7 separate regions of the Homo sapiens genome follow, and all the other regions are reported to be linked to region 4. Evidence: microRNA targets listed by miRTarBase, many of them from high-throughput screens and not tested one by one. Region 4 holds a microRNA gene; each other region holds the end of a gene's coding sequence.

What was found. Region 4 holds the annotated microRNA hsa-miR-4262 (GACAUUCAGACUACCUG, at 1,147-1,163, opposite strand). A microRNA usually pairs through its seed, bases 2 to 8, with sites in the 3' UTR of a target mRNA and lowers its output. Matches are read on the target gene's strand: a 7mer-m8 pairs with bases 2 to 8, a 7mer-A1 pairs with bases 2 to 7 and ends in A, and an 8mer does both.
Region 1: the mRNA of WDR72 is a reported target of hsa-miR-4262. Seed matches in the 3' UTR shown: 8mer at 3,566-3,573.
Region 2: miRTarBase lists ZFAND6 as a target of hsa-miR-4262. Seed matches in the 3' UTR shown: 7mer-A1 at 3,558-3,564 and 8mer at 3,211-3,218.
Region 3: the mRNA of NSD2 is a reported target of hsa-miR-4262. Seed matches in the 3' UTR shown: 7mer-m8 at 1,328-1,334.
Region 5: the mRNA of ZNF829 is a reported target of hsa-miR-4262. Seed matches in the 3' UTR shown: 7mer-m8 at 1,143-1,149.
Region 6: miRTarBase lists DCAF4 as a target of hsa-miR-4262. Seed matches in the 3' UTR shown: 7mer-m8 at 1,010-1,016, 7mer-A1 at 1,534-1,540 and 7mer-m8 at 1,575-1,581.
Region 7: the mRNA of PTGR3 is a reported target of hsa-miR-4262. Seed matches in the 3' UTR shown: 7mer-m8 at 2,096-2,102 and 8mer at 1,754-1,761.

Annotation. Positions count from the first base shown.
Region 1 is chr15:53,514,323-53,518,682 of GRCh38, reverse strand. WDR72 (WD repeat domain 72) reads left to right here. Exons shown (of 20, transcript NM_182758.4): 20 at 929-4,360. The coding sequence ends at 984. It overlaps LOC105370826 (a long non-coding RNA gene), which reads right to left. Exons shown (of 7, transcript XR_007064645.1): 5 at 3,780-3,912. Among named protein-coding and RNA genes, the nearest start is that of WDR72, 240 kb to the left of the region's middle.
Region 2 is chr15:80,136,911-80,141,270 of GRCh38, reverse strand. It overlaps ZFAND6 (zinc finger AN1-type containing 6), which reads right to left. Exons shown (of 7, transcript NM_019006.4): 7 at 2,878-3,791. The coding sequence ends at 3,643. Among named protein-coding and RNA genes, the nearest start is that of FAH, 14 kb to the left of the region's middle.
Region 3 is chr4:1,978,271-1,982,577 of GRCh38, reverse strand. It overlaps NSD2 (nuclear receptor binding SET domain protein 2), which reads right to left. Exons shown (of 22, transcript NM_001042424.3): 22 at 386-3,940. The coding sequence ends at 3,669. Among named protein-coding and RNA genes, the nearest start is that of MIR943, 6.1 kb to the left of the region's middle.
Region 4 is chr2:11,835,797-11,840,156 of GRCh38, forward strand. It overlaps MIR4262 (microRNA 4262), which reads right to left and starts at 1,190; the gene lies at 1,137-1,190. The region is part of intron 3 of LOC105373430 (a long non-coding RNA gene); the gene reads left to right.
Region 5 is chr19:36,887,647-36,892,006 of GRCh38, forward strand. It overlaps ZNF829 (zinc finger protein 829), which reads right to left. Exons shown (of 6, transcript NM_001037232.4): 6 at 478-4,360. The coding sequence ends at 3,846. It also overlaps a transcript of ZNF345 not described here. Among named protein-coding and RNA genes, the nearest start is that of ZNF829, 26 kb to the right of the region's middle. RefSeq lists an enhancer at 3,781-4,360.
Region 6 is chr14:72,957,936-72,962,295 of GRCh38, forward strand. DCAF4 (DDB1 and CUL4 associated factor 4) reads left to right here. Exons shown (of 14, transcript NM_015604.4): 14 at 677-1,768. The coding sequence ends at 870. It also overlaps the pseudogene LOC100420966. Among named protein-coding and RNA genes, the nearest start is that of TRC-GCA8-1, 2.9 kb to the right of the region's middle.
Region 7 is chr18:75,197,769-75,202,063 of GRCh38, forward strand. It overlaps PTGR3 (prostaglandin reductase 3), which reads right to left. Exons shown (of 2, transcript NM_175907.6): 2 at 1-4,295. The coding sequence ends at 3,648. Among named protein-coding and RNA genes, the nearest start is that of PTGR3, 9.2 kb to the right of the region's middle.

The DNA of each region.
Region 1 (4,360 bases), not on the chromosome of region 4:
GGCTGATGATGATGCATGAAGCAGAAAAAATGTGGAATGTGTGAGCAGCCGATCAATCATGGCCATTGAGAACACACTTCTTATGGTTAGCGCTAAAAAAAATCTAGAAGAATTAAGAGCAATTCCAGTAGGAAGATATAAGCACTTTCTTCGAGTTGTTTTTAACAATATGACATTCTTAAAATTTACCCAAAAGCAAAATTCAAGCATCAACATATTTTTTAAAGAATGCAAAATTATACATTAATACACACACACACACAGTTAGTATACAGTACTGGTTTAACTAAACCATAGTTTTTGCCAGTAGGAGTGAAAGTTACTATTCATAGACATGTCATTAATATAAATGTGTTTTAAAATAGTTATTAAGGAACAATGTTCCAATTAGTTTGGTAGTCAATTTGATTTTAAATGAGTGGCTTTTTTTAGCCTACAAAGGCAATCATCCAAGTAATCTGAGAAATAAATACTTGTTTGATTCTCTAACTCAAACAGTATTTCAACTAATAAATTTTGACCCTAAAACTGCAGTTGTGGATTTTTCTAAGAACAATTAAGCTGTTTGAAATTTATGGAAATTTACTAATTTCAAACTAAATTTTTCTTATAGAAAACTTCCATCTTCCTTGGCAGTTAAAAAAAAATCCCCAAGCTATTAATAATGTGTGCAATTAAAGTGTATTTACCTACTTTATAAGACAAGTATATTTTTATTATATTAACTTGTCTTATTTTAGGATGGAAAAGACATGTAGAAATTATAAGCAATACCTTTCTTCCTTTCTTTCTTTTTTTCCTCATTCTCTCCCTTCTTCCTTTCTGTATCTATTCTTCATTTCCTCTCTCCCTCCCCTCCTCTTGGTCTTTCTCTTTTTTCTCTTTTTAGATTTCACCATATAACCCAAGATATCTGCTTTTTTCCTAGGTGAGCCAAGGCATCATTCATGGATAGCAAAGGTCTGCCCCTGCAAGGTGTCTTAAATGGAATCTCATCAGTAGGAGCTGAATTTGGACAAATTAAGAAATCCAAAAGATGCCATTTGTTTATTACTGTATAAAAGCATTGTTGTTATTGGTCAAGTTATTAGGCTGTAGTGGATTTGCTAATACTTTAGCCAACATGTATTAAAGTGATTTTAATACATGCTGATTACAATGCAATACATACTGATTGAAAATATTCATATTCATCTAATTTTAGAAAAATATTGCCTAGATCATTCTCTATTCCTGTTTCTTACTTTTTCTGTTAATATTTCCAACAGGGAATGCCAGTCCACAGACACAAATTTAATACTGCTTTAAATTTTCTCCTATCCTTTTAGTCCCTGAATTATATAATAAACAATGTTAAAACCAATGTAGTACACAATACTTACTTACAAATTTAATACTGCTTCAAGGTATTTAATCTAAAATTTTACCAACTTTGATTTGTCTGGTTAGGATATTTTGTTTTAGTGGATATGCTTTAATTCGGATCAATTACTGCAGTAAATCTCATCCCTAAGCATGAAATGTTGTCAACAAATACCCAGTTCCATTTAGTTATCAATTAGCCCAAATAAGAGATACAAAGTATAACAGTGACCAACCTTGTACTGTTGAGTTAATTTGAACTTCTAATGACATTGAGGCTAATGTCTTTAGCTCAAGGTTGATCTTGTTGGCCATATAGATGTGAACTAGGGAAGGGGAATCAACTTACAGCATATCACAATTGATCCTTATTAAGTATAAACTCTTGTAGGTCTTTTCCCAGAAAGAAGCTTGACTAGCAGGAATTCTAAAACTGAAATATATCAAACAGCATAAATAGGAATAGACATAAAGTGCTCTTCTATTAAAGCCTTTGGTGATCTATTTACTATGATTTATATTGTACAGTTCCTCGATTTACAGAAAATCATCAAAATTATTAATCTACATATCTTATGTATATAAATATTGCCTAATCCATAGAAAAAAGGATATAAAGTATTAAATATGTGATATATAGCTATATCTATCTATCTATGTATCTAATAGGGAAGTCCAAGTCACTTCAATTGAAGAAACATATCTCTGAGCATAGGAGCAGCCTCAGGTCCTATGGTGGGATGCAGTGGACAGGAGAGGGGGAAATTAGAAAAGAGAACTATATAATTGAAAAAGGGATATAAAGCATTAAATATATGATATATAGCTATATCTATGTATGTATCTAACAGAGAAGTTCAAGTCACTTCAATTAAAGAAACATTTTTGAGCATGGGACCAGCCTCAGGTCTTATGCTGGGATGCAGTAGACAGGAGATGGGGAAATTAGAAAAGAGAACTGTGTAATTGAAATGACGTGGGCTGCACCCTTAAGGAACTTATAATTAATGATGATCTGAATAAACATACCAGGATAAAGATGTCAAATGAGTGTGACTCCCTTAAAGTAGATTAAAGTGTGCATTCTTTGTTTCCTAAAATATGATTTTACTGCTTGAAATTACATTTGAGTTGAAGTTTAGAAACTAACATAGCATTAATATGAATAATCATGGAAAATTATTATCCTTTGAAAACTGATTGATAAATATATTCCCCCTCCTTTAGAAACAGTCAAAAGCCACTTCAAACAAGTTTCAAAATAAAGGAAGGTAGCAAGTTAGGCGATGGATTATATTTTCTTGCTTGTTGTATACCAGTTGTCAAGGACATTATAAGGACTCCCAAAAGCATTTTGAAGGATGGCAATATCAAATAAGTGTATGTCCTCTCAAATGAGGCATTTTTAATTGTTAAAATCTATTTGGACGCTCAGGTTATGATATGTTTATGAAAAATAAGCTTCATTATTTTTATAGCTACATCCTATTATTCCCTTTTAGAAACAAGAATAACAATAGGTTTTAATAGTTGCCATACTTAGCATTTATCAGTTCTAATGAAACCAATATTGAATCTCTGATAAATATTTTCTGATGTTACTAGCTATGGGAAATTAGAACTGGCACAACCCTGACATTACTAAGTGGAAATGTTAGGATTTTTCGGCATCGCATGTTAGAATCTCTAAAATTTAAACATTCCTGTTAAATGACTAAGGTTTGCTTTTATCAATATGAATTCTGAAGGCCAATATCATACCATTAACTATGAAAGCTTTTAATTCCTAAAAATAGTTTTAGAGATATTCAAGCAATGCTCTCCTAATATCCATACGCAAGTGTGTTTATGACACAAATTCACTAGTCTGTTTAAAAATGAATTCTTTATATTGACTGGTGTTCCACATATTTCAGTAATTTCTGTTATGAGAGGACTTGAAATAGCAAATTGCCACACAGTTAACTGGATAGACCACGTACGTGGTGATCATAACCACTTGGTACTACACCCAGAAACTCAAAATTGTCTTTCTCCTGATGAGATATGGGTGTCCTTTTGTACGTCTAGGCCTAGGTAACCAGTGGAGTGATTATATTAGCAAATGTGTTTGTATCCGGAGTCTTCCTGTCATTGTAATAAAAAATTTATTTAAAAATTTTGTCTTGTGTTTCTTTTTTGGTAATCATCTTGGTGATATTTATGAATGTATTTGTGTGTGTGTGTGTGTGTGTATACATACATATATATGTGTGTATATATATACACACATATATATACACATATATATGTGTGTATATATATATATATATGGCATATCCCCCAAAGGAATATCATATTTTCATTTGCAAGCCTTGATTCTTTGACTTGCTGTTGAGTTTCACATTGGCTCCATTGTATATTGCAGGAAAAAGTACCTGGAAAGCCTGGAGGGTTAAAAGCAGAGGCTCCTCGGCAGCGTGTCCAGGCCGTGTGTGCTTGCTGTGCTTGTCAGAGCCTCATTCCCTCCCCTGTGTTGGAGAGCTTTCTCACAGGGCTCATCCAGAGGTGCTAGAAAGCAATGTGAGCACTATTAAACACTTCAAATATAAGGAAAAATGTATAATGTTAGAAACACACAGTTAAAAAGTAGCCCCAGGTATCAAACATTCTGTTACTATTTTAGAAACTAAATTAAGGCTGCTTTGAACATGATGGTATTAGAAAAATGGTAGAATACAGTTTGTTAAATATTAATATTCTATCTTTAGATGATAGCATTTGGTGACTTTTATTTCTTTTCTCATACATTTTTTCCAGTGTTCTGTATTTTTAAAATCCTTTCATAATTATTATAATGAACACTTTAGAAAAGATACTATTTCTCTTCCATCCTTAGAGGGCACATTATAATAATTGAGTATTTTAAAATTAAATTTTATGCCATGTATTTAAAATGAAAGTTCAGGTTACATTAATTCCAACTGATTTTAAAGCCTTATTTTCACAGAGTGGACTC
Region 2 (4,360 bases), not on the chromosome of region 4:
TATTACATGCGAATGTATTTTAAAGTGTTTATAGGTGAGCATGTTGCATATTTTGAGACTAGTTTTGCTTACTATACTGCACTTCTTCCTGTATTTCTAAAGCTTACTATACTGGAAGACTTTTTTGCATAATATGCTTCTATTTTGTTGTGTCACTATGGATCAGCAGTTTTGGTTACAGTGTATTATTCCAGTGTATGAATATATCACATTATATTCATCCACTCTTCTTCACTGGGGATTTGAAGACTTGTTTCTGGGCTTTTGCTTCTGTAAACAGCACTATAAAACTTCGTGTAGTGGTCCCCCATTTGTCTTTTTTTTTTTTCTGAGATGGAATCTCACTCTATTGCCCAGGCTAGAGTGCAGTGGTGCGATCTTGGCTCACTGCAATCTCCACCTCTTGGGTTCACGAGATTCTCCTGCCTCAGCCTCCCCAGTAGCTGGGATTACAGGCACCTGCCACCGTGCCTGGCTAATTTTTGTATTTTTAGTAGAAATGGGGTTTCACCGTTTTGGCCATGCTGGTCTCGAACTCCTGACCTCATGATCCATCCACCTTGGCCTCCCAAAGTGCTGGGATTACAGGCTTGAGCCACCGCTCCTGGCTGCGGTCCCCCATTTATCTATGTGTAAGTTTTTCCTAGGTATGCACTTGGGAGTGCAATTTCTGGACTATTGGGTATGTAAAAGTTCCACTTTAAAAGACAGTATCAAACTTTCTCAAGGATTGAACCACTGCACTAACACCAGCAATGCAAGAACACACAGAAATTTGGCAACACTATATACTGACAGATTAATTTTTTGTTGCTTGAATGGGTAGTCTTCATTTGCAGTGGAACTTCTCCCACCTTTGTCTTTTCACATTCTTTGAAGATACTTTAATGTGTTTGAGAATAAAATATCCTTTTAATAGATAAATTCATTAATAATACATTTATAGTATGCTTTGTGTCTTATTTTTTTTATTTTTATTTTTTGAGATGGAGTCTTGCTCTGTCACCCAGGCTGGAGTGCAGTGGTGCGATCTTAGCTCACTGCAACCTCTGCCTCCGGATTCAAGTGATTTTCCTGCCTCAGCCTCCCTAGTAGTAGGGATTACAGGCATGTGCCACTGCGCCTGGCTAATTTTTGTATTTCTTAGTAGAGACGAGGTTTCACCATGTTGGCCAGGTCTTGTGATCTGCCCGCCTCGGCCTCCAAGTGATGGGATTACCGACGTTAGCCACTGTGCCTGGCCAAGAAGTCTCTCTATCCTAAGACCTAACAGGCAGCCATCTTTCTTCTGAGAGTTTTCAAATTTTGTTTTAAGTCCTTTTTTCCTATGGCATAACATACGGGTTTTTTCCTTTTTCATACAGAAAACCAATTCTTCTAGCTCTAATTATCGAAGTCTCCTTTCCTGAATGCAATGTGCCACCTCTCTCTTACACCAAAGTTCAGTCCGTGCAGAGTTCTCTGGGCAATCTATTCAATTCAGGTATCTGTCTGTCCCTATCAGCTAATAACATGCTATTTTAACTAACAAGGCTTCACAGTGAGTCCTGACATTTAGGACAAGTCCCTGTCTCCCTGCTCTCTTCTGAAATGTTCTAGCCTTTTGCTCTTTTTAACTTTTACTTTTACAATCAACTAAACAAGCTCCATGAAAAAAAATCAAGTGGAATTTTGATTGGGATTACCTTGAATCTATGCCTACTGAGGGACAGATGACATTTTTTGATACTGTCTTCCTATCCACTAACATCTATTTACTGAATTCCTATTATCCCTTAATGTTTTAGAATTCTTTCTTGAGGAGGCCATCCACATATATTGTCAATTTCCTAGGTAACCAAGATTCTGGTATTATTGTCAAATGGTGTTTCCTGGTTTTCTAGGTAACTGGTGTAAAGAAATGCAACTGTCTTCTAAAAACGAATGTTGTATCTAGCTACCTAACTAAACCCTATTATTTCTAGTAATGATTTTTCTATAAAAACAATGTGCAAATAATGAGTGCTACCTCTTTTCTTATCATTTTTCTGTCTTGTCTTGCTCCACTGATTATAATCTCCAACACAATTTTGAATAGTAAGCAGTAATAGTGGGCAGTCATCTTTGTTTCTGACTTTAAAAGGAAGTAAGTTTCCTCTTTTTAGCTGATGCTTGGTTTTGTTTGTTTGGCTGTTGATTTCACATAGAACTATCAGCTTAAGGAAATTCCTTTCTAGTCTTAATTTGTCAAGTTTAATTTTTCTTATCACGAATGGCTGTTAAATTCTATTACTCTACCTGAATCTATTAAGACAGTCATAACGGTTTATTCTCTTTATAATCTGTTAATGTGATCAATTTACAGATTTTGATAATTAAACCATCCTTTATTTAAATAGAACATGCAAGTAAGTAAATAATTTTAAACTGAGAAATTTATATTGTAAAATTATTGCCTTCATCTGTTTTATATGACATTTCATGTTTAAAAACGTTTGGCTACCAGACACATTTGAAAACCACAGGACAAATGATCTTTCAAGGGTCTTTCTACTCCGCAATTCTACAATTGCCCTGCAGTTTGAATTATACTCTTAAAATTTCTCCAATCCTACAAGAAAAAGCTTCTATTAGATGTTAATTGAGTGTGACAGTGTAGAAAAGGGAATCAGACAAGGACTAAAAAATACATTTAAGTAACAGAGAGGAGTGCTTGCCTCTGAAGATATGCTCAGGTCTTCAACTCAGAGGAATACAAAATTACAATTCATGATCATAAGCTTAGTCACAAATAGATGCAAGACAAATAATGGTAGTTCTCTTACAAAATTAGGAAAGTAGAAAACTAAAAGACCAAAAAATAAAATTAACTACCAGAAAGAATAAGAGAAAAAGTAATACAAGGGAGCATTCTGGTTTTCCTTTTTATTTAATCAAAGACTGGTGAATAAACATAAATACAGCACAATTACTTCAGATCATTCTTCATATTGTATACACACAAACCCATGAACATAATCTGAAAGAAACCTGTAGACAGCAATGAAATGCATACAGCTTTTTCTTCCCTCGCTCAAAAAAAAGTTTAAACACACAAACTTACAATCTCATCAGCACACACTCTCTTGTGACAAATGATTCAGACATAAATAGTGGGTGCAAAGAAACTATATGCTAACATATGAATAACCTTTGTTAATGAAAAAACAGAAGCAGCCATAATGATTAAGATACATTCAGTTACTGATAACTAGTTGTGCCCTAAAGGGCATTATCAAAAGAGAAATCGTGCTGCAGAGAAAAGCGATATATACATACACAATGAGAAAATAAACTGCAAGATTAATGCATGCATGTTTAATACTGGAAAAATCACAGCCCTCCAAAATTTCTGCACGTTTGTTATAAAAGCCCTCTGCACTCAACTAAAATTAAAATGATCTTAAAAGGATAATACTTGTAAAGTTTAAGTCTCCTCAGCCACAGAAATTGCAATGGAAATAAATGTTCAGAGTCATTTTCAAAACAAAACCAAAACAAAAATCTATTCTTCCGATGACATGCAAGATACACTGCTCTACATTCCCAATGACTAGGAAAAAAAAAACCTCAAGTCAATTTTTAGTTTGCAGATGCTCAAGAATTTTGTATTCCAGCAGGAGTTCAAATCTTTTGGATCTTTTCACCAACAACTACTGGATTTTCTTTTCTGATTTTCTCAGCAGCATCGGCTTTGTAATTGTAAGAGCAATTGTGTACATCTGAGTAACGGTGTACACCACAGTAAACATTTCCACACCGGCATTCAAACCCTGGAAATGGAGTAATACACATACATGAGTTGAAGGATGAAATATTAAGGTCTTTGGCATAATTAATACTGAACAGCACAATATATTTAGGGCAGCAATGTAAACTAAAGAATCATTCTAAATACACTGTCTCACAAACTACATTCTTATTCACTACCTGAGAGCTTCATTTCTTATTCCTATCTACAAACGCAGGTTTGCCCTAGAGAAAGTCCTCTGAGCTTGTTTCTTCACCTGTGATATGGCAACAATTACTTCTTAACAAAAACACAGTTGCTAGGTTGAAAATGTAAAACATTTTTCAAATCCAAACACTACGATGTGAGAATAAGCCTACTGTCAGAAGGCAGTCTTGGCATTTATTTAAGAAAGATCAAATAATACCTCTGAAAGAACTGTTAACAAAGAACACAGCTTCGATATTTGCTTTTCTCTGCTAACCTCCCATGGAGATGTGAACTGTACTGCAGTTGAGAGGTGAAGAGCACGGGATCTAGAGCCTGCCTGCCTCAGTGTCAATCTACTTACTAATGAAGGCAAATTAGCCTCTCTGAGCTTGAGTTTCTGCA
Region 3 (4,307 bases), not on the chromosome of region 4:
GCCCTCGGGGTACTCCCTTGACTTACTTGGCTGTGGGCCTGGGGACCACCCGGCTCAGCCGACTGCAGGGCTGGGGGACAGCAGTGCTTCCTTCTCTCTAGACCATTTCACCCTTAATGGGAATTTGGGAAGCAAATTATTTCTGAAAGAAGAAGAAAGCATTTTTCCAAAGTCAGTCAGTTATGCCTGCTATTTCCAGTATTTGTTGTTATACTTCCCAAGGTGGCACTGCCTCTCCCCAGCGGGTCAGGTCAAAGGCAAAATGACACAGTCAGGACAGGGAGCCCCACCCATCGGAGGCATCAGTGCCACACCCGATGCTTTGCAATTCAAAGTAACTGGAAAAAAAATCAAACAATCCCATATAAAATAAGTTAAGAAAAAAGCCTTTAAAATGTTTTTAATACAAAAATACTCATACACAATTTTCCAAACACAGCTTTCCATTTTAAATGCTATTTTCCCCCAACTGGCAAGTCTCAACTCTCTATTTCAGTATATCCCTCCCCCCAAAAAGTGAATTTCAAGTTTTTAAGTCTAACTATCAAACCTGGTGACAGCACCCAGTATTCCTAAAAGGAATCTGACCTTACATTGTATGAAGTTTAGACACCAATAGGCACATTTAAGTTTGTATTTAATTTCTGACGGGGCATTTCACACCTCAACAGGGTATGGTGAGGCTGTGACACCCCGTGGACACAGCATTTTACTCTACTGACTAACAAACAGTCATCAACTACACTCATAGGATCAAGATATTTGGCAACTGACAGTCATTTGCATTAACTTGAATTATAAAACAGGTTTAATTCTGGAAAATAAGGTAGTCCTGGAAGATGGGCACTGCACACGCCGGGGTTTAGATGTCAAGACAGACAAACACTGCGAAGGGGACCCAGCCAGCCATGGACGGGTGTCGCCGGAAGAAAGGCCGGCCTGAGGACGGACAGCTGGGTTCTCACTTCAGGTGCCTGAAGAGTTTCCCCCACAGGTGACCACATTTTAAGCTGCCCATTCGGACACATCCCCCTGTGGGCGCACACGGGTGGGTATGGGTTTAGGTGCAGATGCTGGTTTCGGATGCCAAGGAATCCTGAGGGATTGGGGCGGTTTTTGTGTTTTGCTTCACATTAATGATGGAGGATTGAAGCTGATGTTCAGGAAGTCACCACGTCCTCAGAACAAAGCTGGGCAGGGCCGAGAGCCAGCCACACCCACGGTCACAGCTGGGGGCGTGGTCAGCCCCAGTGGCGAGAAACCCTGCAAGCTCAGGGCCGCTACCCCAAAGCCTGGCTCCACTGAGTTATCAACGGGTATTGTAGAGACATTCAAAGTTAGTGTTACTTGCTCATTAGTTTAACAGTTTTTGGAAAGGGGGAGAAACATATTTAAAATGTTTGCATTATTTCCTTCAGAAAAATCATAAAATTTGGAAGTATTATCAAAGCGATTAAAAATCACAAGATTTCACTACTGTCCAACACAAAAATAAGTTAATATCTGCTCCCCAAAGTGCACTGCAAAGCCGATTCTGCTGTTTTGACGTAAGCATTGGTAGTCCCTTACCTGCCGGAAGGGATCTTTTGGGCAAGTGACAGCGGGGCCCTGGGGCCTTCGACTCTAAGGTGTGTGTGGGGACACTGCCCGGCCTGTCCCTAGAACAACCTTCCAAGTTAGGGCATCATAAGGAGCATAAATCTATGAGCCGATCCAGTATTTTCTTAGGACACTTTGGGAGAAGTTAGAGTCTGAACTGGAAAGCACTACTCCCACCCTGTCTTAACCGGCGAGTGCCCCTCAGAGGCCACGGCCGCGCGAGCAAGTCAGTGGCTACACAGCTCGTTTCCCCTGGGTCCTCTGTGTAGTTAACTTTGCTGGGGACCCTGATGGGAGAAGGGACAGCCACCAGCCAGTGAAACTTCCAGTCAGTGCTCAGGGAGGCGTGGGACCCTGCAGGGCCACACACCCCTGAACCCCACGCTTACAGGTCACAAAACCACGGAGTAGCCACTCTCAGGTCCAAAGACACTGCAGTTTTTACCAAGGCATAAAAGATGCCACAGAAAATTTAACAGGAGCCTCAGCAGCAGTTTTCAAGGGGAGTTCTGTAAACTTCTCTGCAAGATGGATGTGTCCCCCTTAGGTTATTTTAAGAAAAGGCCATAAAAAAGCACCTGCTGCTGAATGTTCTCTCCCTCCCTCCCAGACAAGCAGCCCCTCAGGACACGTGGGCAAAGGCACACATGGTGCCCCCTTCTCAGGGTGCTCCAGACTTCCCAGGGTCAAGGATCCCTCAAAAAAAGAACCAAGTCTTAAAACATATGTAGTACTCAGATAGATAGGTCTCACTCTGTAGAACTGGACCTTTTAAAAACTAAAGTGAAATCTCACAGGAGAGTGGGTGTCATACCTGGCCTAGACCAGTGCCCATAACACACGTACGAGGCACGCACACCTGCCAGGCAGGCCTCCACCCCCAGGACCGCACCTCTCAGTAGGTGCCCTGGCAGAGGGCACATGTGATCAGCAGAGACTGCATCTTCCATCACCAGACCCACAGAGTGCTGAGATGGAAGCCACTCTGGGTGGCAGGAGAGCTAGACTCCGTCTCTCTTTAGACCCACGTGCTGGGGTCCCCGGGGCCTGCAGCGCCCTACGGGGCTCCCTAAGTTGTCACTTCCTGTGCTCTAAGCAGACTGCGGTCTCACGCCCTGCAAAGTCACTCCTTTCGCCATGGAGCTCAGGGCCGCATCAGTAAACACACACTTCAGTCGGTGGTGATTTGTGAAATAGGTTTAGCAAAAATATATTGAGAATAAAAATCAGAAACTGGTAAAGAAAAGCCAAATGAAAAAAATATACAAAGTTATCCCCCAAATGTTGATAAGAACCTAGCGAGTTCAGAAGATAGGCCCAGGTGAGAAGTAGGCCCAACCCGGCCAGGCCTCGAAAGTGCTCCGCGTAAACTACACGTTGAAAGTGGACGTGTTATTGGCATTTCATTCAAATCCATGAGGAGAAAAAACTACGGGAGGAAATCTTACAACACCATTGCTGCCACCACCTGCAGGGCCAGCTTCTCACTAGGATGGAAAAGAAGCGTTTCTGAGGAACAATTCACATTAGTACAAAAAAATGATACAGCCATTTCCAAAGAGCAGAGTAATGATCACAATGGCAGTTTCGAGGAATCCAGGGTCAGTCCTCACACGGGCCTCACCCAGCCTCTCCCGAGTGGCGACGGCGCTGAGAGCCAGAAAGGGGGCAACGCGAAGACGAGTTTCTAGCGACCCTTGGGAAAAGCCTACGCTACACATTTCAGAGGAGATTAAAACATTCCATATGCCAATTAACTTTAACCTAAAAAAATAGAGTGGGAGGGAACCTTGACATTCGGAGAAATTCAAGTGTGGCGGTAACGCTGAGGAGTGAGGCTGTTTGTCCAGGAACGCTGAGCTGGGCTCAGACGGTCATCAGTGCAGACGCAGCGGACGCTGCTGAGGATGGCTCAGTGGTGGGGAGGCGCTCCCTCCCGAGGAGGCCTGTACGTCTGTGTCCTGGCGGCTCGAGCTGGGTCCTCCGGGCCAGTTCATGCTCGCCCTCTCCCGCAGGCAGGGCCGGCCGCCCTGCACCGCCCCTGGATCCGGCCAAGCGGCCGCCTGGCGCTATTTGCCCTCTGTGACTCTCCGCCAGCCCCTCCGCCGCCGCCTCTTCCCCTTCGGCTTCCCTGGCTCTGGGGGGGGCTTCTCAGTCTTGGTGCTTCTGACCGATGCCGCCCCTAAGTCATGCTCACAGCAGTAGGACCGCCCGTCCGGGGTGCAGCTGAAGGCTGTCCCGTCCTGGTGCTCCTTACAGAACGAATTGGGGCAGAGGTGGCAAAATGAAGTCGAAGGTTTGCCACACACGTCACAATGATGCCAAGGACATTCCCACTTCCCTGCAACAGAACACAAGATGTGAGCACACAGAAGTGATGGAATCACGACTTCAACATTATCGTGGTTGAAGATGACTTACAACTGTCAGGTCAAATGAACACAAAATAGTGCTGGCTCCAGCGAACAGGACGGGCAGACAAACTGTCTACCACAGCCCGGGCGGGCTCCCTGGCAGGGCCTGTTGACTCCACAGTACCTGCCAGGCCCCTAAGGACCACCTGTTAGCGTCTCTTTATGTTTCGGCAACTGAGAGGAGCTGTGCCGGGTGCAGGAGTGTCCCCCAGCGCGGCGTGGACAGGCAGGGGCTGCTGTGCTGATTTCCATGTGACCTGCCCTCTCCCAAGGGACTGATTTTCAACTTGGGTA
Region 4 (4,360 bases):
TTCCACCTCTTTCCCCCCGCCTCTCTTTTTGCCCTTCCTTTCTTTCTTTCTCCCTTTATTTTGTTGGCTTTTTATAGTTTTCAGTCTACTGTTTTTTTTGAAACCAAAATAACATATTCACATAGTTTTAAAAGTTGAAGATTTTTACCAGAAGACACACAAAATCCACATGGCTGGTCCTACTTGCCCCCCTCCCCCACACCCCTCCTGATTCTCATTTTCAACCCTTGCCCCTGTTTATTCTGGAATTTACTTTGATATTTTTAAGTAAAATGAACATACTACAATATTTCGATTAATGAAATTTAGGCATTCCTTATTGACTTACGATGCCAGATGAAGTTTTTGTCTTTCATATGTGCTTTTTCCCATCCCTAAGCCTTATAGTATAAAAATATCATGTTTTTTTTTATTTCTATAACTTTTGGCCTTCCCTGGAGTTAATATGCTCCATTTTTTATGGCTCATTATTTTTTCAAATTATTACTAACTCCTTCCTCAGCCCCCAAAAAATGTTATGGGAAAAAAATCTCTGTAATATTTTCCACATTGTTAAATACATGTCTCCTTTTTTCCTCCTGGAAACCCTCCCACTAAAGTGCTCTCCCCGCACATTCCAGTCTAACAGGGCTGCTCTGACCCCCAACAAGCCATCAATCTGGAGTCTTCTCTGCTTTTCTCCTTAATTGGAGGCCCTGTCTCCAAGATCCCAAATGGATTGTTCTTAATTTTTTTTTGTGGTATCCATCTCTAATTTTGTGAGTCTACCCTTCAGTCTACCCTTCTGAAGACATTAGTTATAGTGTCTGTGAAATTTTCTTCTGTTTCCTGAATTATCTCAATAGTAACTCCTCAAATTTTGCTCGTTTGCTTTGGTTTCTATGGGCGACTTCCCTCAAGTGTCTGGTAATACTTTATATCTGTTTATATGTAAGAGAGATGCACTAAAACGTTGTGGGGTTGGGAGGTGCCTGTGCAGGATGGCAGGTGTCTGCGTCTATCTGTGGGTAGGTGTGGGTATATGAGTGTGGGTCTGTGTCTGTGGGGTGTATATGGGTGTGTGTGTGGGTGTCTGTGTTGTGAACATGGGGGGTGTGGGTGTCTCTTTGTGGGGTGTGCAGGTCCTGTCAGCCATGGGCTCTGCTGCAGGTAGTCTGAATGTCCCCCCAACATCAGCACCTGCAGCTTTCCTCTCTGGGGTGGTTTGGTATCTGCAGAGAGGCTGCCTGGCCTCATGGCGGGAGGTGGAGCTTGTGGTGAACGGCCTGTCACATGCCACAGTTGGACCAGGGAAGCAGCCGAGGAGCCCTACTGCTCACTGTGCAAGTGCCTCCAATGCCCACTTTTAGTCTAGCACCTTGTCCTGCCTCTTTTCCCCAACTCCAGGACAATGCACCTGTCATTAGCCACTCCAATGCCTATATCTCAAATTCCCACTGTCTACAGAATCATTCCCATCATCATACAGATCTGCTGTGATGTGTCCCATCAGCGTAAAACCAGCCCCAACTCATATTCCTCTCCATGACCACTCATTTCTCTGCTTCCCTTTATGGCCAAATTCTTGGAAGAGATGACTATATAGTCTGCCCTTCCAATCCATGGGTTTGATATCTGTGGATTCAACCAAGCATGGGTCAAAGATATTTGGGAAAAAATCTGTCTTTACTGAACACATCCAGACTTTTTTTCTTATCATGATTTCCTAACCCATAGAGTATAGCAACTATTAACATGGCATTTACATTGTATTAGGCATTATAAGCAATCTAGGGATTATTTAAAGTACACAGAAGATGTGCATAGGTTGCATAAAGATACTATGCCATTTTATATCAGGGGCTTGACATCCATGAATTTTGAGATCCACAAGGGTCCCGAAACCAATCCACCATGGACACCAGAAGCTGACTGTCCTTGCTTTTCCCCTTCCTCCCTTTCCTTCCCTCTTGCACCCACTCCAAGCTGACCTTTGGCTCCCACTCCACGGTACCCACTCAATGTCTTCAATGAACTCCAAGGGACAGAGCCAAGCAGTTTAGTCTCCATCTTACTTGGCCCAACAGTCAGGGAGGAATTTGGTTATGATTTGTCTCTTGCTCCTTCCTCAAAGTCTGGAAGACGTTTCCACCCAGGGAACAGGGAAAACAGGGCAATGGACGGGCAGCAGTGTGGCTGGAGGACTGGCTCTGAAGTGCAGCAGGGATGCTGTTAAGGGGTGAGCAGGGCCACATCATGAGCCAGGTGGCCTGGCCTCATTTCCCATGCACTTGGTGGCCACTAAAGGGAGGAGGAGTGGGGAATGGCAGAGTTGGGTGATGCTTTAGAGGGATCACCCAGGTGGTGGTGGTGACAGATGGGAGGGGCTGGGCAGGAGCAAGGAACCTTACCTGAAGACTCCAGGTGGCTCAGAATGGAGAAACTGAAGGTCCAAACTGAGGCAGTGACACAGGCATGAAGGAGGGGAGCCGAGGAGAGCCGGGGAGGAAGCTGGGATCACTTCCAAGTCTCTAGCACAGACACATGAGTGCATGGAGGGCCCATTACAGAGTCCAGCAGCCCAGAAACACAGAGCCGGCTGAGGCCTGCATGGAAGTCCAGAGGTCCACCTGAGGCAGGTTGAGTGGTTGACCCTGAGGAACAGCCAGCGAGTGGCCAGTGAGGCAACGTGTTCAGTCTGGACATGCCTCATTGTTCCAAACAAGGTGACAGGGGAGAGGCAGCTCCTGCTGGAGAAGCCGCTGGTGAAGGTCCACTCTGCAGAGTTTCAGAATGGTGCCAGCCCTTCCAGGCTGCTCCTTGTCCATTCCCTGCCCCGTCAGCCAGCCTTGGCTGCCCTTTCAAGGACACATGAAGCCACAGGAACAGGGAGGGCCAGTCTGCGTGGTGAGGTGACCCCTGACACATGCTGAGGTCTCCCCTGTGCTGGGAGGCTGGAGGGCATGCCTCGGCCTCTCTGGGGTCCCCAAAGCACAGCTCTAAGTGCCCATGTGCACCCAGCAGGCTTCTGATCTCTCCCCTCCCCACACCTGGCTGAGTGGGTACCTGGCTGTCTTCATACCTATAGACAGGTAGGTGCAGTGCCTCATTTGGCCTCAGACCCAGGTGTGATCTCCATACCAGCTCTTCTTGTATTTTTCCAGAGTGAATGGGGGTTGTTGACAACTTGTCCAGATGAGTGAAACTGACATTTGCTTCCTATGTGCCTGTGTATTCTTTAAACAATTTTTAAATATTTTTAATAAAGGAAAAATGAATATATTTATGGTGTAAAACGTGATGCTTTGATATTTATATACTTTGAGGACCGTGATAATGTATTATATTCTTTAAAACTGCTAAGGGAGTAGATTTTATTTATTTATTTATTTATCGAGATGCAGTCTTACTCTGTCACCCAGGCTGGAGCGCAGTGGCGTCATCTCAGTTCACGGCAACCTCTGCCTACCAGGTTCAAGCAATTCTCATGCCTCAGCCCACTGAGTAGCTGGGATTACAGATGTGTGCCACCACGTGTGGCTAATTTTTGTATTTGTTTTTGTAGAGACAGGGTTTCACTATGTTCACCAGGCTGGTCTGGAACTCCCAACTTCAGGTGATCCGCCTGCCTTGGCCTCCTAGAGTGCTGGGATTACAGGCGTGAGCCACCATGCCCAGCTGAGAGTAGATTTTAAATGTTCTCATCACAAAAAAAGGGTAAGTATATGAGGTGAAGGATATACCAATTAACTGAATCATGCTGCAGTGGATACGTTCATCAATGGCTGTTAATTCTGTTATGTTTATATGCATTGCAATTGAGGAATGGAGGAGGAGTAATTGATATTTATGGCACATTTTGGCTGGAAATCTTTGAGAATACCCCTTGTGAGTTTTGCATGAAAAGGAGATTTTCAGGGTGGGGAGCTGAGCCTTGATTTGCAGGATCTCCAGCCTCACTTGTTCTGCACGGGATGCAGCGGCTTGTGTGTCCCATCAGAATGACGGCTGCAGCTGATGCTGGTGAGAGAGATTAAGAACAGAGCACCTTCTGCACCTCATCAGCAGGGATTCTTAATCTGGGTTGTAGGCTAAAATTAACTGGGGGAGGGGGCCAATTTAAACAATTACTAATGCCCAAGTCCCAACCCAAACCAATTGAATCTGAGTCTCTATCTACACCCTCCAAGTGGGGTCAACTTGGAGTGTTTACATCATAAACTCTGATTGTCATTGTGGATTTGAAAGACTCAGACTGTGGCTTCAACCACAGCAGCGTGATGGTGGATTTTATCTACAAAAGGATAAAGACCTTTGTGGGCTGGAGGGAAGAGGTTGTTTTACAAGGGATATTCCATCTTCTTGAGTAATGCACGGGAAA
Region 5 (4,360 bases), not on the chromosome of region 4:
ATGATATTAGATCCATGTTTTACAAAAGGAACACACGTAGAGCCCAGACCACTGTTTCCTGACATGCTAGGCTAAAAGTCAAGATTCGAGACTCAGAATCATTTTGGTCCTCTTCAACATTTTACTCCATCTAATGGCACACTCTACTTATTGGGTCTCCTGAACTCTAGAGCCAGTAACAGTGATCCTAAAGTCATTCTCATGATTTTGCCTGAGGTACAATTTAAATTCTTGGATGACTCCAAATCTGCAGAAATATTAATCTAGAAAAAATAATAGTTATGTGTACAGGAAAAACTGTAAATTTTACTACATGTGAAAAAGATTTCTGCTTATTAAAAAATACCAAAGAGGCCAAAAGATTAGGAAAAGTTACTGAAACAACATATGACAAACACTAACCTTAATATATAAAGAAATATATATATTTCTTAAATATGTAAAGAAATTTGTAATCAGTAAAGATGACCAACAACGTGATGGTGAAACAGAAGAGTTTATAGTAACATGAACATGCCTGTTAAACATTTGAATAAATGATCAGTTTCTCATAACATAGAAATAGAAATGAAATTATAAATTGTGCTGTCTTGTTTGATCAAAAGTTTGATAAAACATTTAATAGTATACATATTCCAGGGAAGATGTTTCCTGTTCTATCTCCCAACACATACAGTGTTATTACCACAATATAGTGTCAAACCGTCAATGCAAAAATCTTTAATCTCCTTGCCCTGATGATATCTGTCTCTACAATATCCAGTACTCCCACGTCAATAAAATTTATACACCCATTTTCTGTTCCCACCTACCACACTAAATTCTTGTGATCTTTCTACTCTGCACTCTGAAATCCACAGTAACTTATTAGCATAATGCCCCCACCTTTTAAAAAAGCATTCTTAATTTGCCTTTTATTGTTTCTTAATTATAGGTTTAGGAAGTTACAAGGGCAGTTGTGTTACATACACATATAGTGTAGTGGGGAAAGTGTTGGCTTTTAATGGACTCATTACCTAAATAATGTACCTTGTACTAAATAGGATTTTTTTTGGTTTTTTTTTGAGATGGAGTCTGGCTTTGTTGCTCCCCCGGCTGGAGTGCAATGGCATAATCTCGGCTCACTGCAACCTCCACCTCCCACATTCAAGCAATTTGCTCTGTTGCCCAGGCTGGAGTGCAATGGCACTATCTCAGCTCACTGCAACCTCCGCTTCTCAGGTTCAAGTAATTCTCCTGCCTCAGCCTCCCAAGTAGCTGGGACTACAGTGCCTGCCACCATGCCCAGCCAATTTTTCTATTTTTAGTAGAGACAGGGTTTCGCCATGTCAGCCAGACTGGTCTCAAACTCTTGACATCATGTGATCTGCCCGCCTTGGCCTTGCAAAGTGCTGGGATTACAGGTGTGAGTGCCTGGCTTATTTTTAATTCTGTGTATGTGATGAATCATGTATTGAGTTGCATATGTTGAGCCATCCTTACACCCCAGGAATAAAATCCACTTGACTGTGCTGTTACTATCTTTTTTATGTACTGTTTGATTTGGTTTGCTAGTATTTTGCTGAAGATTTTTGTGTCTATTTTCATCAGGGATATTGGCTTGTAGTTTTTTTGTGTGTTTTATCCTTGCCTGGCTTCAGTATCAGGATGATACTGGCTTTGTAGAATGAGTTAGGGAGGATTCCCTCCTATAATTTTTGGAATAGTTTCAATAGTGCTGTTACTAGTTCTTCCTTGCATGTCTAGTAGAATTCAGCTGTGAATCTGTCTGGTCCTGGGCTTTTTGTTTTTGCAAGATTTTTTTCTATTACTGATTCAATTTCAATACTCAGTAGTCTGTTGAGGATTCCTATTTCTCCCTGGTTCAATCTTGGAAGGTTATGTGTTTCTAGGAATTTATCCACTTCCTCTAGGTTTTCTAATATGTGCATATAGTTTCTGCTGATATTTTATATGTCTGTGTTATCAGTTATAATATCACCTTATCATTTCTGATTGTATTTATTTGAATCTTCTTTTTTTCTTGGTTAATCTAGCTAGTGGTCTGTCAGTTTTATCTTTGCAAAGAACCAACTTTTTCTTTTATTGATCTTTTGCATTCCTTTGTTCTCAGTCTCATTTTTGCCTGCTCTGATATTTGTTATTGCTTTTCTTCTGCCAGCTTTGGGTTGAGTTTGTTTTGTTTTTTCCTAGTTCCTTGAGATGTGACGTTAGGCTATTCATTTGAGATTTTTCTATCTTTTTGGTGTAGGCATTTAATGCTATAAAATCCTCTCTTAGCACTGCTTTTGCTGTATCTCAGATGTTTTCATGTGTTTTGTCTCTATTTTCATTTATTTCAAAAAATTTTAAATTTCCACCTTAGTTTCATCATTGATCCAAAAATCATTCAGGAGCAAGCTGTTTAAATTCCATGTATCTGTTTTGAGAGTTCCTCTTGGTATTGATATCTAGTTTTATTCCACTATGGTCAGAGAAGATGTTAGATATGATTTTGTTTTTTTAAAATTTATTGATACTTGCTTTGTGGTCCAGTATATGACCTATTTTTGAGAATGTTCCATGCACAGAAGAGAAGAGTATATATTCTGTGGTTGTTGGGTAGAATGTTCTTCAGATGTCTGTTGGGTCCATTTGGTGTAGAGTCCAATTTAAGTCCAGAGTTTCTTTGTTGATTTCTGTCCCAGTGATCTGTCTAGTGCTGTCAATGGAGTGGTGAAGTCCCCTGCTATTGTTGTATTGCTGTCTATCTCTTTTCTTAGGTCTAGTAGTATCTGTGTTATGGATCTGGGTGTTGCAGTGTTGGGTGCATACATATTTAGGATTGTTTTATCTTCTTGTTGAATTTATCCTTTATCATTATAAATGACCTTCTTTGTCCTTTTTAATTTTTGTTGGTATAAAGTCTGTTTTGGCCATCACGGTGGCTCACGTCTGTAATCCCAGCACTTTGGGAGGCTGAGGCGGGCAGATCACTTGAAGTCAGGAGTTCAAGACCAGCCTGGCCAACATGGTGAAACCCCGTCGCTACTAAAAATACAAAAAAAAAAAAAAAAAAAATTAGCCGGGCATGGTGGCGCATGCCTGTAATCCCAACTACTTGAGAGGCTGAGGCACAAGAATCGCTTGAACTCAGGAGCTGGAGGTTGCAGTGAGCTGAGATCACACCACTGCACTCCAGCCTGGGCAACAGAGCGAGACTCTGTCTCAAAATAAAATAAAATAAAATAAATTTGACTAACAACTTATGTATAAAAGGAAATTACAAATATATTAGACAAAATCATTCTAACAGGGTATTATGGGTTGAACTGTATCCCCTAAAAAGATATGCTGAAGTCCTAACCCCTGGTACCGGTAAATGTGACCTTACTTGGAAACAGGGTCTTGGCAGATATAATCAAGTTAAGATGAGGTCACCAGGTAACCCCAATCTAACCTGACTGGTGTCCAAATAAAAGACATACACAGAGATACACAGCGAGAATGCAATGTGAAGATGGAGGCAGAGATTGGAATGGTGTATGTAAAAGCCATGGAATGCCAAGGACTGCCAGCTGTTAACAGAGGTTAGGAAAAAGGCATAGAACAGATCCTCAGAGTCCTCAGAAGGAACCAAAACGATCAGCACCCTTGAGTTTAGATTTCCAGGCTCTAAACTATGAGAGAATAAATTTCTCTTGTTTTAAGCCACCAAGGTTTTGGTACTTGGTACTTTGTTATCGTATCGTTTAAAAACGAATACATAGGAGAACCTTTGATAATATGTATCCTAATTTGTTCTCCTTACCTGTTTTAAAAAAATTATTATAAAGGTTAACAAAATGGTCTTACTTTACTGTCATTCAACCAGTATGAATTCCCTCATGGCGAATGAGGTCAGAGCGACTACCAAAAGCCTTTCCACATTCCTTACAGTCATAGGGTTTCTCACCAGTGTGAATTCTCTGATGTCGAGTAAGATTTGAGCCTTTATTAAAGGCCTTCCCACATTCATTACATTCATATGGTTTTTCATCTGTATGGATTCTCTGATGTTGAATAAGTTCTGAGCTCTGAATAAAGGCCTTTCTACATTCTTCACATTCATAGAGCTTCTCACCAGCATGAATTCTGTGATGGTTAGTAAGTGTTGAGGCACTATTAAAGGCCTTCCCACACTGCTTACATTCATAAGGTTTCTCACCAGTATGCATTCTCTGATGCTGAATAAGCCTTGAGTGTTGAGTAAAGGCTTTCCCACATTCTTTACATTCATAAGGTTTCTCACCAGTATGAATTCTCAGATGTAGAAAAAGTTGTGAACTTTTAGTAAAGGCTTTTCCACATACTTTACATTCATAGGGTTTCTCACCAGTGT
Region 6 (4,360 bases), not on the chromosome of region 4:
AAGAGCTGTGGGGAGAGTTGTCAACCTAGCCCATCCCCAGGATGTAATGACTTTGACAGATCTTTTACTATAACATGAAAAGATCAGGCCAGGTGTGGTAGCTATAATTCCAGCACTTAGGGAGCTTGAGGCCAGGAGTTTAAGACCAGCTGGGGCAACACAGCAAGACCCTATCTCAAAAAAAAAAAAAATTAGGCATGGCGGCACACACTTGTAGTCCCAGTTAACTCAGGAGGCTGAGGCAGAAGGATGGCTTGGGCCCAGGAGTTCAAGGCTGCAGTGAGCCCTGATCACACCACTGCACTCCAGCCCGGGCGACAGAGCAAGACCCTGTCCCTAAAAAATGGGGGAAATCAGTTGCATGTCACCTAGACCAGGTGGGCCACACTCGCACTTGAACGTTCCGTGACATCAAGAGCAGCAGAATACCCAGACATTAGCCAGGATGTCTCCGAGCCATTCATGGCATCACACAGCCAACCAGGGCATCTTGTCATTGTTCTAGCACAACAGGGCGACTTGGGTTATCCGTAGAAATACTGTCCGTTAATGAGTTTGTGTTTTGGCTCACATGAAATCACAGCCCTGAGGAATCTTGGGAAGCCATGTCCACATGTAGGTAAGTTTTCCTTTGCATTCTCTCACTAGCCTGCCATGTGTCTCTCCTCTTTCCTAGTGGGCCAGGACTGCTACACGAGAATCTGGAGCCTCCACGATGCCCGCCTACTGAGAACCATACCCTCCCCGTACCCTGCCTCCAAGGCCGACATTCCCAGTGTGGCCTTCTCGTCGCGGCTGGGGGGCTCCCGGGGCGCGCCGGGGCTGCTCATGGCTGTCGGGCAGGACCTTTACTGTTACTCCTACAGCTAATTCTGCAGGGCACAGCCCAGAGCCATGTGGATTTGACTTACGGGAGTAAAGCGTAACTTTTTACTGCATCTAATGAGGGTGTTTTAAGTGACACTCAGTGTACACAGATCCCATCCTCTGGCTGCTAGGAGAGAAGTGCTGAATGTTCCGTGTGGAGATGCTCAGGAAAGTTATTTGAGTTAAATTGCTGGCTGAGAGAGCTTGGAAGTCCTTTTCATAAAAGGTACCTCTTTCCTTTTCTTATTGAATTCTTAGAACTTAGTTAACCCTCCCTGCCTTTTCTTAACAAAAAGGACTTTTCTAAGGACTGAAGATTGGCAAAAACGAAAAGCTTCTTCCTCCAAGAGCCCATTGAAGAAGCCCAGTGATGAGACGGTGAGATGGTTTGAGTCCTCGGTGCCTGGGTAGCAGGAAGAAAGACCTGCATCCTGCATCTGTACTTGGGGAAGCCAGCGGAGAGGACGGGGAGGTTACTTCTCTAAGTTTCTGCAGAAATATTGAAGGCTGGAGTTTGGAATCCTTAAACTTGGCCTTCTCAAACTCAGCAGCAGATCTCCGGGATTCTGCTGTTATTATCCAAAGGCGTTGGAAGGAAAGATGGATCTTCTTACATGCTAGAAGTTTTAAACGGTCCTTAACATGCCTTTGTTCAAGCACCTTCCAGAATGTAAGGTTCAGCAGCTCTGGTTTCTATTACGGTGACTTGAATGTCAGATTCAAGGGCCCGGCGTCAAAGGAAATTGGTTTTGACTTTTTGTAATCTAGGAGCGACAGTTCGTGAGATGTTTATTCAGTGTTAAAGAGCCTGTTTTTCTACCAAACAATAAAACCAAGAGAAGAATCATGGTGTGACATGCACTTCTGTGAATGACTTAGGAGATCATGAGCTTGGGCTGCTGGGACCAGCTTTCATAGCCTTCCTGGAGAGCTTCCCTGGGCCCCTCCAGACCCACTCTGCCCTCATCATCTGTCCATCTCCACCCTGCTCTGTGCATGCCCAAAAGACTCACCTCTGGACTAGGTCAGGGTTCCCTGGCTCCCAGCAGCTAGGTAGGTTCAGCCAGTGGGAAGCAGCAGTAGAACACAGAGGGCAAGAGGAGAGGGAGTGGTTCCCCGGCTCCCTTCTGGTTGGGCTGTGGGTGGCTGTAACCAAAACCCACCACTTCTATTGGAAAGCGCTCAGAGAGAGCCGGGTTCCAGCAACTCTTCATTTGTCCCTTCAGACCTACAGCTGGTCATCACACCTCACTGTTGCTGGCCCAGAATGCCTCACTAGGTAGACTCGCAGTTACCCACTTGAATGTTTCCTGCCAGTACCCTGACTAATACAGCATATTCTATAAAGAACCAAATTTTTTTTTTTTTTTTGAGATGGTGTTTTATACTTGTTGCCCAGGCTGGAGTGCAATGGCGCTCTCACCGCACCCTCCACCTCCTGGGTTCTAGTGATTCTCCTGCCTCAGCCTCCCGAGTAGGTTGGATTATAGGCGCGTGCCACCACGCCTGGCTAATTTTGTATTTTTAGTAGAGATGGGGGTTTCTACATGTTGGTCAGGCTGGCCTCAAACTCCTGACCTCAGGTGATCTGCCCGCCTCAGCCTCCCAAAGTGCTGGGATTATAGGCCTGAGCCACCGCACCTGGCCCGATTCTTAAATATATTTAATCCGTCCGCCCCAGTTATCTAAGGCTCTGACCTCTTCCTTCTCCCACCAGCAAACCCCAGGGCAGTTTGCACTGTGCCCCCTCAGCATTGTGGCTGACAGTCTTCTGTATTCTCTTTCCCACATTCAGGATCATGGTGGCACAGGAAGGGATGGCTGGATAGTAGAATGCATCCTCCACATCTTCAGGAAAGGACAGAGATACCTCAACAGGAGAAGTTGGGCAGAGACAGGCAAGTGCTGCCTCCATTTCCAGCCTCATGATGGTTCCTGGGCCATAGCAAAGCCTGGTTGAGGGGAAGAGGCCCAGGGACTGCATCTTTCCAGCTTTTCTTCACATACACAAGCAGATGGTGGCACAGTACTCCCTGATACTAGCTAATAAGCACCTACTGTATGTCAGGCCCCCCCCACCTTTTTTTTTTTTTGAGACATGGTCTCACTCTGTCGCCCAAGCTGGAGTGCATGAGTTGCAGTAGCACAATTACTACTCACTGCAGTCTTGACCTCCTTGGGCTTGAGCAATCCTCCCACCTCAGTCTTCTGAGCAGTTGGGCCCACAGGTGTGCACCACCACACTCAGTTAATTTTTTATTTTTTGTAGAGATGGCGTCTCCCTATGTTTCCCAGGCTGGTCTTGAACTCCTAGGCTCAAGTGATCCTCTGGCCTCAGCCTCCCAAAGTGCTGGCATTACAGACACGAGCCATTTGTAAGACACTTCTCACCCTCACACTAACCCCACGGCACAGTTTGGGAAACAAGTTTGTTGAGTTAAAGTGGTTTGGCAAGAAGGGCTGAGCTGGGATTAAGATTCCGCTCTTCCCAACTCTGAAGCCCCTGTTCCCCTCACTGCTGTGTCCTGCTCATTTTCCAGGCCCAGGTTAACAACAATGGGAAAGAGTTGAGAGATACTTTTCTAACAGGGTAAACCCTCCTCCCAGCCCAACTCCACCATCCTGGGCCACTCCTCTACTCACATGATCCTTTGTACCATTTGGTCCAATTGATCTTGATCTCATCCATTTTTTCCACATGGGTCAGAGACAAGGGTGAGATTTTTCTCATTTCTCGTGGGAGAAAGGCAAGCTCTGCCAAGCCCAGAATTTCTGGCCCCTCCTGTCCCAGCACAAACCATTCACAGTCTTCCCGCAATTATTCCTGGTGCAGGGTTTTATTTCTAGGAAGCCTTCTGTCCCTCAACCTCACCAGCCCTTGGCTTTTCAGCCCAGAGGCTCAGGACATTTGAGGATTGCGTGTTTGGCTGTGGGCATGGGGAATGCAGTGACTACACCTGGTTGGCATCCCATACCACACCCAGGGGAATGGGGAAGCCAAGAGGTGGACTGGAAGCAGGCTCAGGCCTCTCTCTCCTTGCCCCCAAGGGCATCCTCTCCAGCAGATGGCCACTACAATGCTGATGTCAAACTGGTCAGTGGGTTCAGTGGAAGGTTTGGCTACCGCGGGAACACCCCAGCTCTCCGTCGGAGCACGTCTGTCTTTGGAGAGGTCACCCACTTCCCTCTGTTCTAACAGCATCTCTTCCCTTCATAGCCCTCAACCTGAATTTCTAAGACAGATGTTTAGGTGAACTCTCAATGTTATTTTACATTAAAAAAATTTGTGTCTCCAAGTGTGCCGTTTCTTCCCTGAGACTGGAGGAAGGAGCCAGCTGTACTCTCAGCTTCTCTTACCCTGGAGAGGAGGTGAGACGAGAAGGGCTTCTCAGGCCTATGCCCTTGCACTCGGAGAGGCTTCACTTCTACCCTGCCAGTGGGATAAGAAGGAGCCACACTATTCATCCTCAATAAAACACTTCCCCAGCTATCA
Region 7 (4,295 bases), not on the chromosome of region 4:
ATTTAATAAAATGAAAGTATACAGAAGAAAATTATGAATTCATCAAATCAGGCCGTTTTGCATCCAGATTGTATTCAGAAAACTTGTTTAACACCTAGGAAATTACTGTCCAAAGTTGATAGTGCTTGGTCTTTTTTATCAGTTTTTATTCTGAAAGCTGTGCATTACTAATCTACTTTTATGTAAATCTGAAATACAGTATTTATCCCATATGTCCACATGGTAAAGTAATCAAGAAAGATATTTTCAGTGCTTAGCACCCCCACCCCAATTTAAAGGAAACTCTGACTGTAGTAAATTCATGCTAATTGAGAACTCTGGGGAAGGGGTTAAAACATTACCCAGGTACAAGTCGGGTGGCCATTATAAACGTTACCCAAATAAAAGCCAGAAACAGGAAGCCAAAAACCAGGTCCCTAAGGCAGGCATGTGTCTTAAATGATATCATTTGTCAAGCTTCCAGCATCTTGTGGTGGTGAACACAAAAAGAAGGTCTGCGTTGTACTGAGGACATTACATCCTCATTAGCTGGAATGTTCCTCAAGTACATAATGCAGGATTTTCATTTTAATAAGAAGCAGCTACTTGTCACTGCACTTTCATTAGATAAACACAGAATGTAATACTAATGACCATTTACAGAGGCTCTATCCTACTCCTGAGGAACTTCATCCAGATGAAATCATATAATGACAAGTTATAGAATATATCATGCAAAACTTCCTTCATTTCTTTGCAAACTATTCCCTGAATTTTTTTTTTTTTAATGCTGAGGTCAGTTAACAGCAGTAGTCATCATCAAAGGAACCCCTAAATGACACTGCTGGTATTTTCTGCCTGCAAAACAGGCTTGAAGGAATAGCATTTGGCTCTTTAGAAGTCATAACCAAATGGTAACAGATCACTGGGACTCCTTGGTTTCTCAAAGAGGCAAGCTCCTTCCACCCTGCCCGGCTGGTGACCTTAAGCCCGACATGCAGAGAAGTCCACGCTGAGAAATAATTTACTCACTGGGATTGTTCCACCCTGGCCCCTTCTCTAAAAAGACTGACAATTGCCCTGAATTATGGATGTACTTTTTGTGATATGTATTACAGTTCAGAAGAAAGGTGTTGAGACCATCGTACCGTTTCACCTCCCATTAGAGGCTGGTCTTGAACAATAATCCCAGAAGATGAAACTGATGCTGAACTATGACCCTCAATTTACAAATCATTTTTCAAAAGAATAAAAAAAAGTTTAAACATATTTTTGGCATTATCTGAATGGGCGGAATCTTTCATGCTTGTTTTCTAAGAATAAGTGAAAACAGCATGCAGTGCACTTTCTTAGTTTGGGGAAAGAGAGAACATGAGGTTTTCAGATTATATTTTATTTTAATCCTGGGCGTTTGAATTTTATTTTTACATAGCTGCATTTAGTATATTCCCTCAAAACACAATAAATTTCTATTCTGTAGCTTAAGGGATCCATCAGTTAAAATGTTGGTCTTTCATCTTTATTACCCTCCCATTAAAATGAAACAAACCGGGACTCACTTCAGTTTCGAAGAAGCAATTTAGTTGGTAATGTCCTTACTCCCCAAGTCTTTACAAAGGGAGAAAGTACATTACTGCTTAGATTTCACACATCTATCTGCATAAGAAGCAACTAAGCCTTTTGGACATAGACTATGTTAAATTTAATAATATTCTTTGATTAGATTATTTTATTACAACATTTTTTCCATTACCAGTCATTTCCTGTGCACAGTTACATTCATAAAACCTGCTCCCCCCTCCTTTGTTTGTTTGTGAATGTAAAAGTGAGGCAAAGTCTCTTTCCGTGTGGCTGTGGCTGTTAGGTCTGAAAGGGATGGATGAATAACTAAGCACCACACTGGACGGGTTTTTCCTAGTCCCCTGCACCAGTAACCCTTTGCTATAATGAGGACACAAAGAGCCTCGCATCAGGCCGCTACCCTTCTTCATAACTCAAAAGCGTCACAGTGGCAATAGCCTCTAGTGCTATTTGTCTTTAGTGCAGTTGTGACACTTCGGCATGATCCATAATTTGGCAGCTATTTACCGTGACATTTCCCTTCAGTGCAGCCATAACATTCAGTGAAGCCATTATTTGGTTCCATTTACCATATAAATTGTATTGTTGTGCATGCATGCTAGCAGCTACATTAGGTACCTGAAAATGAGTAAATCTTGTAAAATAGATACTAACAGCTATTCAGCAGTAGGATTTCCTTGCTCCTCAGATGGAAGGAAAGAAAAATTAAATACAGTCCCCAAATTTCCTAGAGCATCTTTAATTGCGTCCATATTTACTGAGCAGGTTAGATACACCGAAACCTAAGACTTTGAAAAATAATCTGGTGGGCTTCACCTTCAATCAGAACGGGCCCATGGGGTTTCAGCGCAACGGTGACAGCGGCAGCAGTCTTCAGGGCACTAAAGGTTAAGAGGGAAGCCGATGAGCCACAGGCGTGACTCAGAAGAGAGGGTGCAGGTTTCGCTGCTTTTCCTGTGTGGTCAGTGGGTCAATGTGGGACATCAGGCTATAGTGCCAAGGAGCATCTCATTCCACCAGAACACGTGGAGAGAAAAATGGGAATGCAGAATGAGTGGCTGCTATTCTGTTTCCAGAATCAGAGGTAACGCATAGCTTCTAGTTCGAACGCCTCTAAGGAGAAGCAAATGTATTCTTCCTTGAGATGACTGAGGTCTCTACGGTGCACAGGGCGATGGGACATACCGTACCTCGAGCAGTGTAGCATGCTGTTACTAAGGCCTTGCCGTGTGCCTAGACAGCGCTTCCCTCCTGGGGCCCGTGTTTTGTGGTGAACCCCCACTGAGAATGGAGCGCACACTTTTCTCTTTCCTGTGCCTATATTAATTTTAAGTCCCCCTAATCTCTGTGGTTTCCCTTTCCAAAACCTACTTTCTGTCTATGTAAGTTTTCAACATTAATTTGCTGCTTCAGAGGAAAGAGAACATTTCCATTTCACATGTGCCTTATCAGGTTGATGGTAGATAAAAGCCATTACGTGCTACTTCTTCAAAACACATCTGTGTTCACGGAATCATTTTTCTAATAACAAAATCAAATTTGGGAGGGAATTCCCCCAAATGTCCATTTAGATAGTTGGTTGGTGATTTATAGAAAAAAAAAGGACCATTTCCTGAGGATATAGATTCTGAAAATATATGGCTGGCTTTTGCTACACTTGTCACTCATGAACTGCTTATGAGCATAAGACCAAATTCTCCCAAAGCAAAGAAGTCGGGAACCACTTTCAAAACTGATTTTAAAATCTGATCAAGCTGAAGACATACTGACTCGATCAGATCTGGCATCAGGAATGAATTTAGTTCCCTGGAACAATAACATCTGGAACGAGACCATCCATGACTAAAGAATTGAATGTAAGCGTTTTCCCTCTTAGCCATGGAGGGAAGTTTTATTAGCACATTTTTTTTTTTCCCCCAAGGGAAGAGGAGGAGGAGGAGGAGAAGGAGAGACCTATTCATTAACACCTTACTTTTGTTTTAAGAAATATTATATCCATTACCAACTAAAAATAAATTGATTTGAGTAATTCTGAGACATAAAGTGCCCATTTTCTTTCTCCCTTGATTTATGTCATTGTTCTGTTTTTACAGCTTACTGTTGACAGAGTGAGGTAATTCAACTACAATTTTTCCAGTGTTTTTTCCCATGTACATATAATTGACAGCACGGAATATGGACTCCAGGCCAGTAAACCTGCCCTCTGGAGACAGATCTCCAAGGTCCACCTCACAAACCAGGTCTCCGCTCACACACATCTCGAGCAAGTGGCTCATGGCTGCTTGATACTTAGAAAGGTAATGGTTCAGGAAGAAGCCCTGTACGCTGGCAGATTTCTTGAGCAGTTTGGCTGGCAATGTTCCTGCTTTCACAGGCGAAAGGCCAGTAGGAGTTTGGTAGCCAGAGATAAACCCTATTACTATCAAGCGCCCTTTCGTAGCCAGGGCGTCTACAGCCAAGTCAAACATGGCTCCCCCAACAGATTCATAGACCACATCGACACCTTCAGGGTACTCCTGCTTAAGGACGGTACCTACGGGTTCAGTTTTATAGTTGATAGGACGATCACAGCCAAGAGATTTCAGAAAAGCAGACTTTTCATCAGAAGAGCAGGTTCCAATTACATGGCACTTTGCCTTCTTTGAAAGCTGCATGGCAAACTGGCCCGTTCCCCCAGCTGCTGCTGTCACCAAAACTTTTTTCCCTTCCGACAGTCCTCCGAGCTCTTTCAGGCT